3 separate regions of the Homo sapiens genome follow, and all the other regions are linked to region 2. The links come from fine-mapping of genetic effects on gene expression. A gene starts in region 2. Each other region holds a variant in brackets. All regions are shown on one strand. Distances are between the middles of the regions.

Region 1 (2,768 bases), 40 kb after region 2:
CTTTCTCCCTTGAGTCTATTTATTACTCAATTCACTCTGTTATCTAATACCCCTTACAGTAACTGTATGCCCTGAAATTCTCTTCCCTCCTCCACATCATCAAAACTTGCTTTTGGATCATTCAGACTGAGGTAAAAAAAAAATGACTAAGATCTTAAAGTACAGATATTTGAATTTCAATAGAAAAGAAAGGCTAAAGGATTGAGGTTCTCAGGCAAAGAGACAAGAGTCTGCTAGGCATCAGAACTTTTTGGCTTCTCCCAGTTACAAGACTCATCTTATAAGCCATATAGTTGGAGAGAAGTAGTCATTCAAAAGGCTCAAAATATAGGAAAACAAAAATAAAAATCACTTCTTAGTTCATAAATACAATGTAGGTCTATTGAAGAGAACATTAAAATTGATCCCTGTTTTCTGATCTCAAACTGGCCAACAGTGAGAAGGAGTTGGATAAAGCAGCCTTGGTGTTGGTGAATGCAAGAAGAATTGAGTGTATAATTACAAAAGGAAAGTGAGTGTCAATGTGTGTGTGTGAGAGAGTGTTTGTATAGAAACCACTCTAGAAAAAGACATTTAAAACTGCTAAAGTTATTAATGCACTGAAAAGAAACTATTAACTTCAAAATCATTCTATTGCTATATTAAGTCATATTTGAGGGACAAATCAATAGCAATGACTTTCTTGAAATGTCTCCCAACACTATGATTTTGTTTTATGGCACTGGTGGGTAAAGGGGTTTGGTCTGAAAGGACACAAACAGGTAATACTATCAGTTAAGAATGTTGGCAGTAGTTGAGCAAAAAAATAAAATATGATAGAAAGCACAGTTTGTTTCCTTTGTCCTTTCCTTTTATGTTTAGCAGTTATGTAAATTAAAAGAAATTGATCTTACTACCTATTCTTTTTATTCAGTTACCAAAAGAACATTTGCTTTGAATGAATATGGATGCATTTTTCTTTTAACAGAATCAGGCAGCCAAACATGACTCACTGTTATTTACATGAGTCAGTATCTACTTGCCCATGTAATCTTGTTTCACTAACTTTACAGTCAGATCATTCTTGTTACGATCAGGGAAAATGCAAGCAAGAATAAATGTGATGCCAATTAATACAACTACGAATTAGTATTTAGTAGTAGTTATTGATCATTTTATATGGGAAGTAAAAAAATCAATTATCTAACATTCCATTGTTTACTATTATTTTTAACAAAAATGGGATTTTGTTTTTTTTTACACAATGTTCTGTTCTTTGTTAAGAAGTGAGGAAAAAAGCACTTACTGATCCTAAGCAAGTCAGCTCCTCGATTTGCCTGATGACGATGAATATGAATACAG[G/C]CTTTCTCTCCAGTACAGTTGCTCTTCATCAAAAACAGGCTGGCTCTAACATATTTCACAAACACAGAAAAGTGTGCCAAGACACAGTCAGCAATTCTTTTTAATTTTTGAGATTTAAAATATTACTGAACTTTGTTTGAGTTTTACATTTCTCATGGATAATTTTACTGTGAAATTTATGATGCTATAAAACTATGTTTATGAAGATACTATAGTAGGTTTCACATATCTCCATATCTTATATTGGTAACATTTAAATTTGAATACTACATCTTTATCCTTTCATAAACTAGAAGATAATTGTTCTGATGACTAGCAGAAGAAGCTGGCAGGAACGATAGATTTGCCACTCTTTGCTTTCTGTTATTTGTGAGTCTAATTACTCTAGTTGGTCAATTAATGGCAACACATGACAAAATCTTCCTACTAATTGACTCTCACTATTTTGTTACTGCTGAAGCTTCCTCTAATTTTGTATGTGCATATGTTACCCTACTTGTCATTTTTTTCCTCCTAACCTTCCTTATCAGAAAGCCCATCTCACCAACTTCACAGTCAGATAATTCTTGTTATGATCAGGAAAAAAGCAAACAAGAATGAATGTGACGCCAATTAATATAATTACTAATTAGAAGCCACATTTTGAGGGCATTAAAACAGAAGAAGAGTAGAAATGATAATAACTTGGTTTTAGGGAAGCTGTTAACATATAAATAGAACCCAAAATGGCACCACTGGTAGTTTTCCAGGGACTTAATATTTCTGACACACACTCAATTTGTGCCCATGGATAAGACATACTATATTATAGGAGAATCAAAGAGTTACATATTTGGAAAAATCAGGTTACCAAAAAGAATAATGACATTGTTTAAACAATAATGCATTAAACTTTCCTTGTTTATTATGCTAGAAGTTGTATGAGATTATCTGAGTAAAAGCATTTCAATTACTTCAGCATTGTGGGACATGAAGTGTAAAAGAACTCAGAACATGGGAAAAAAAGGAAAAAGAGAAAGGAAATGGCTGAAAGATTAATTACTTGGCTGTCAGCTGCTAGGGGAGTTTATTTATGTTCTCTTAATATTCATAAGGCTCTTGTCAAAATGGTATTATTAAATACCCATTTTATAGAAAAGGGACTGAGGCTGTTCAACTGCAGTTTATTTGATGGGTATTTATGCCTGTGATGGGGACAGCTATGTCAGGAACTTCAATTCCAGTTAAAGTGAAACCTGGCAGAGACATAGTTTTGATCCAAATTTTGACAGTAGTACAATGTTGCTTGTCCTTCTCCGGGATGGTAGTCTGTGTTTCCCTGTAACATTTTGTCTGATTTGTTTGTACCAACTATTTGGTTTTGTAAATTTATGTGACACTTTGTTTTAAGCTAATTATAAATGTAAATTAGACTCTAAGATGTCTTT
Region 2 (2,766 bases):
TTCTTGTGGTTTGTTGCCTACATTATGTTTAAAGGACATGCTAAATGCTAAATTTCAGTTAGAAGTTAGTGAAACTAAAAATGAGATTTTTCCCATTATACTTAATCTGTATAAAAGGAGTATATGAATAGAATTCCATTTATACAGATTAAGAATCTCCTGCTCTATGGTAATATTAACGGGCTAATGTTATGAAAGTGAGTCTCAGAGCGATGAATTAAGCTGTTCTAGCTTTCAAAGAGCATATATTCTATGACCAAGAATTCTAACTAAGTTTTGTTGGAAAGCTGTTGGCTACATTATCACCTAACTTTGGGACTGATAGATGGATGGAAACATCTCATTTAGCAAAGGTGCTTCCCTGGCCTTGTGCAATTGCACTGTTTAGGTTGCTGGACAAATCCATAGTGTAAAGCTGGCCTGTATCAAGTGACGGTCAATTCAAACAGCAAGGCAAGTTAAAAGAGGGAACTCCATTCCACAGAACCCTAGTGTCAAGGAACCTCCCGACTGGAAAATGACTCAACAGCTAGGCGGAAACCCTGGCTCAGCTACAAAGAGAGCAAATTTAGTCCCATTTTTCCTTAAACATTCAACCCTCAAACCTGAAGAGATTTGGGAAAGAAGCAAAACGGGAGGGTGGGGGAGAGAGAACAGTCTTGTTAACAGCTAGTGTTAATTTAAAAAGAGAAGGAAAGGGCTTATATGAATACATGCTTATTTCATTCCCAAAGCAAATTTTCATAAATCCTTAGGGAAAGAGAGATAGTCATTTGCTAATGTAGACTCTGCTTTTTGATTCCCAAATGTTACAGCTGTCACCACAACAGTTTGCCCAATTATGTGGCAGGGAGGGGAGGGGGTCCAGAGCAAAGGAAGTAGGAGGAAGAGATGTTAGAGGGAACATCTGTGCACAAGTGCACCATAAACACAACAAAATCATGGGGCCACCCCACTGTTTCTTTGAGCGCTTTCTCTGGTTGGCCCCACTTCTCCAGTCTTTTAGGAGATTCCCGTTCTATTACGTAGGTGAGAGGGCGAAAGGTTCTAGCTTTCAAAATTGTGAGTGGTTTGGCTGTGTGCATACGTGTGTGTGCGCGCGTGTGTGCGTGTGTGTGTGTGTTTGCGTGTGTGTCTGTTGGCGGGGGCGGGGGTGATGGAGAGAGCTATGAAGGGCTTAGAAAGCTTCATTACCAATTTAAAATGTTTTTGTAGTGCTTGAATGTTTATCTTAAAAGACAATTCCTGCTCTCAAATTCAGCCAAATGAACAATGCTGATAAGGAAGATGAAGAGGGTGGGAAACCCACAGGGGCAAATGGAACAGTCCATGCAGCCGGGGTGACGGGGGAGCGCTCGGAGGAAGGACGCTATGCAGAGAAAGCCCCCCTGGCTCTTCTCTCTCAATCCATAATCCAGCGATGCTGCAGCTGTAAAAGCATTAATAGAAAATCAATCCACAACCTCGCGGGGCAGCGATCGTCGAGCGCCGTTTCCAGGCTGCCTTCCCTGGGGTCGGGAGCGGCCCCGCTCCCCCCGTGGCTGGCGCGGAATGTGGTGATCCGTCCCGGGGCGGGGATGACTTCATGCAGCCGGAGCTCCGCGGCGGGAGCGGAGGCTGCTGCTGGCAGGTGGGGCGCGGGCCGGCGCGAGCTGACCGAGCACTCGGCGGGCGCGGCGGGACTGCGGCCCGTGGCGGCGTGCGCGGGGACCTGCGCTGACTAGGTCCGGGGAAGGTAAGCAGCCCGGCACCGGTGCGCCCTGGCCGCACTGCGTGGAGCTTTCCGCTTGGTTAATAATGGGGTTTGCAGCACGGAGGGAAGAAGGGGAGAACCCCGCTGCATTCTGCAATGAGAAAAGGAGCAACAACTAGGATGGAAATGTTGGGCGGCCAAGTGCAGAGGTTGGAGGAGCAGTGTTACTGGGCAAACAAAGAAGGCGTTCTTGCCTCTATACTCTTTTGAACGTGATCTACCATTTCAGTGCCAGATTCGCGTAGACAGTGAAGAGGACTCAAAATTTAAAATAATTTGAGTTACTCTTTTGCTTTCTGTGCCTTTTACCTTCGCTTGAGTATTTTGAGGATTTGGAGCAGTAGGTCCCTGGCAGCAGCCTGAGGTAATCAGAAATCGTCCCTCTTCCTGTAGTCCTTGGTCCTCTCCCTTTCCAGTTATCAGAATGGGTCTGTGCCCCTCTCAATGGCAAAACACCTGCTTCAAGACTGAACCTTTAGAAAGAGCCTCTATCTGGAGGGGAAACTTCTCTTATCTCCTGGAGTTCAGCTTGGGTTGAGCAGCACTTGACATCGCTTCTTCCTTCAATTGCCATTTTCTCTGTCAATCATTTCATTGATCTTTTTCGGAGATGCTGTGCCCATTCACAGACCAACTCTCGTCAGCTCTTATCCACCACCTGGGTTCCATGACTGATTTTGTCAAGGTCCCAAAAAGGGCATTGCCTCACACAGATTTCTTATTCGGTATTCTCCCTGTATACTGTTACCTGTGTCCTTCCCCCAAATGCATGGAATGAAATATCCTGCTTGTGGCCCTGTACCAACATGTTATCCCATTAACTCCCTTCGCTGTAGTCACTGTGGCTACTTGAAAGCTAGAGAGGACAGATAGAATCTACTGGAGTGTGAGGGATGTTCCCTATGCATAGGCATAGGTAGAAGTAAAAATGTGAATGCCAGTCCATCCAGTTTTTCTTGAAGCAATTTTAGTCCAGTTGGATTTTGAGACAGCTAGCTGTTAAGATTTGGGAC
Region 3 (2,768 bases), 45 kb after region 2:
GAACATAACTGGTTTGGAGATGTGTTGAAATGACTGATCTCAAGTTCTCTTTCAAATCTGAACTAAATGTCTGTGTGATGGAGATAGAGGCTATGGAGCTGCTTTCCCGAGCTCATTGATACAGCCCCCTCACTTTCGCCAGTGTTTTACATTCTGGCAAACCAGCATAGTTCTTTTTATCTGTAGTTATTATACATCTAGTTGAGAAAACCCAGTTTGATCTATTTATACCAAAGTACAAATGAAATCTGAATTCATCTGATTAGTTCTTCCTGTAAAATTGTGTTCATTTCTATCACATATGTTGTAACATAAAGATTTTTGGTGATATCCTAGTCCCAAAGTGATAACCTAGATCATCTGACTCTACATTCTCCATAGGAATAAATCATACGAATCTCTCTGAAGTAATGTTATAATTAATTCCTAAAGGTAATTTATAATTATATATATGCTACTTTCATGCATATTTGATATCATTTTGACTTTCACTATTCATTTATCATGTTTGCAAGCCTTTTGTTAAAAATAGCTGGTACACAAATCATTTCCTGATTGCCACATCTGGAACCCTGATTATATTTGCATTTCACAGTCGTTAGCCTTTAAAACTAGAGCAGAATCTGGGAATTTGCAGACAAAACAGTGCTTCCTTCTGGCAGTTGCATAAAAAGACATTTTTAAATCTGCATTTCTGTTTAAAGAAAACTGATTTATTTTCATTCTAAATTTATATAACACTTTCTTTAAACTAATCATAAAATGTAAATTAGGTTAACTCTAAGCTTTTTCCCCACCAGAACAAATGACAGTAACATTTTGTACAAAAAGAAAACGTTTTTCTATTCACACCTTGAATCATTGCTCTCCCTGTCTTTGAAAGTTAATTCTGATTAAGATGTACTGGTAGCTCATTGAAATCTTTGACAAAGCCAGCTTAGCTATTCTCTTGAGTAATGATTTACCTTACATTAAAATATCTTAAACATATGAACATTAATAACTAAAGTGATGAATATTACTAATATTGGGACTCAATTCATCAAGGAGAATACTTTGGGGAAGCAGATGGACTGTGAAGGGACAGGGATAATTTTTAACTATGGCCTTGATATTTAGACCAATGGCCGAGGAAAACCATGAAGAACATGAGAATGGGCTTCATTCATGTCAAGGAAGCAGAGTATTTGCTGATGGCTTAACATTTACTGGGCATGTCCTAACAGGATAGCCTGAAAAGATA[C/T]ATAACATTTTATCTGAGTCATTTAATTTAACCACATCCCTCTGTGTTAGTGTTATCTCTATTGGTAGATAGAAACCAGGCTCAGGAAGATTAAGAATGTTACCTAATTCTAGTAAGCTGCAAAACCTAAACTGATTTAATTCCAGAGCAAAGATCTTTCTACCTTATCAGCATGGGTCTTTACCTCTTTGAGAATATATGAGCTCTATGAGCCTTCTTCCAGAAAAATCCATAAATAAACAACATGAGACGTGGTATATCAGTACAAATCTCACTAAATGATTAGTGTGTTTGGACTTGCATCTGCTGGTAGATCTTTTGCGAATTTGCCTTCCTCTGAGATAGGGGGCTTTAAGTATTTTTTCTGAAGACACTCCCAAATTATACATATAAGAAACTATTTTCCTTTCAGGCTAAAGATAAATTAAAATGTATTTAACTACATATAGGTGCCACTGTTGGTCTAACACTCTACATATACCAGGATACAAGCTAAGATGGGTTCAAAAACTGTCCATTATACTGTAATTTGTTTCTGATATCGTGACACAGATATAATTTAATCAATTATAAGACAAGAAAAAAGACAGAAATGCTCCTTCTTCCTCCTCAACATCATGTAATTAGCCTACCCCACTGCTCTAGGCTAGGCCAAGTTTTTTTGTTTTTTTTTTTCTCCTAGTACAGGAAGCATATTTTAGTGACTCTCTGTCACAATCTTCTCCACTTCAAGTACATCTCACATAAATCTAGCCTGTCCCACAAAGTTTGTGCCAGGCAGTCTTAGGGTCAGTTGTACCCACGTATGTATGATTTTGAACTTCTCAAGTAGGGCCATTGTAGTCAGTAGAGCACAGTGGTTGGTACTGATGTCAAACTTTCTGAGTCCAAATACTGCTTCCATCTCTGACTAGCTATGTAACCTTAGATAAATCACTTAATGTTTTGAAAAGCATCTGTTTTCTCAGGAAAAGAGGATAATAAATACACCTACCTCACAGGGTTAATGTGTAAATTCATGTAACATGGGATAATGCACGTTAAGCATTGCACAGTACCTGCCTCTTGTTAGTAATAGCTGCTCTATTATTAATTATCCTCTTTGTATCCCCATTCTCAGCTCCCTTCTAACATATAATAGTTCTTCAGCAAATATTTACTGGCTTGAATTAGTTCTAAAACTTAGGCAATGCACCAACAGCAGAGTAATCACCCTTAACCATCACTTCTCCCACTGAAAGGGAGAATAGACAGAAGCCAACTATCTACCCTTTTTCTACATAAAACCTCTTATCGAGCCTCCAGTTAATAAAATAATAGTTCTGAAACCCCAAAAAATATTAGCAATTGTTGAAATCATGCTAGTTTGAAAATAGTTGAGTTTTCCTAACAAAATATGTCTCAGGATCCCAGGGTCACCAAGCTTATATTAATATAGTCTAGTTGGGACTAATGGTAATCATCAGTGAACTAGTCATTTTTTAGCTTCTTGGGCTCTTAAAAAATTTGTTATCATTAAGCCCAC

Alleles and levels. Positions count from the first base shown, and alleles are read on the strand shown. Sizes are in standard deviations (SD) of each study's normalised expression. Not every link is listed here.
As copies of G replace C in region 1, the expression in tibial nerve of the gene that starts at base 1,607 in region 2 goes down (small effect, 0.29 SD a copy in GTEx).

Evidence for each region.
Region 1: its variant is fine-mapped to the expression of PKIA in tibial nerve (GTEx, PIP above 0.99).
Region 3: its variant is fine-mapped to the expression of PKIA in whole blood (INTERVAL, PIP 0.93).

The regions. Positions count from the first base shown.
Region 1 is chr8:78,555,214-78,557,981 of GRCh38, forward strand. All of the region lies in intron 1 of PKIA (cAMP-dependent protein kinase inhibitor alpha), which reads left to right. PKIA-AS1 (PKIA antisense RNA 1) reads right to left here. Exons shown (of 3, transcript NR_125389.1): 2 at 1,286-1,386. All of the region lies in intron 2 of LOC105375911 (a long non-coding RNA gene), which reads right to left. Among named protein-coding and RNA genes, the nearest start is that of PKIA-AS1, 1.9 kb to the right of the region's middle. The variant G/C (reference allele first, on the strand shown) is at 1,342.
Region 2 is chr8:78,514,734-78,517,499 of GRCh38, forward strand. It overlaps PKIA (cAMP-dependent protein kinase inhibitor alpha), which reads left to right and starts at 1,607. Exons shown (of 4, transcript NM_006823.4): 1 at 1,607-1,735. The region is part of intron 2 of LOC105375911 (a long non-coding RNA gene); the gene reads right to left. RefSeq lists a silencer at 1,552-1,851 and an enhancer at 2,172-2,281.
Region 3 is chr8:78,559,555-78,562,322 of GRCh38, forward strand. The region is part of intron 1 of PKIA (cAMP-dependent protein kinase inhibitor alpha); the gene reads left to right. All of the region lies in intron 2 of LOC105375911 (a long non-coding RNA gene), which reads right to left. Among named protein-coding and RNA genes, the nearest start is that of PKIA-AS1, 2.4 kb to the left of the region's middle. The variant C/T (reference allele first, on the strand shown) is at 1,244.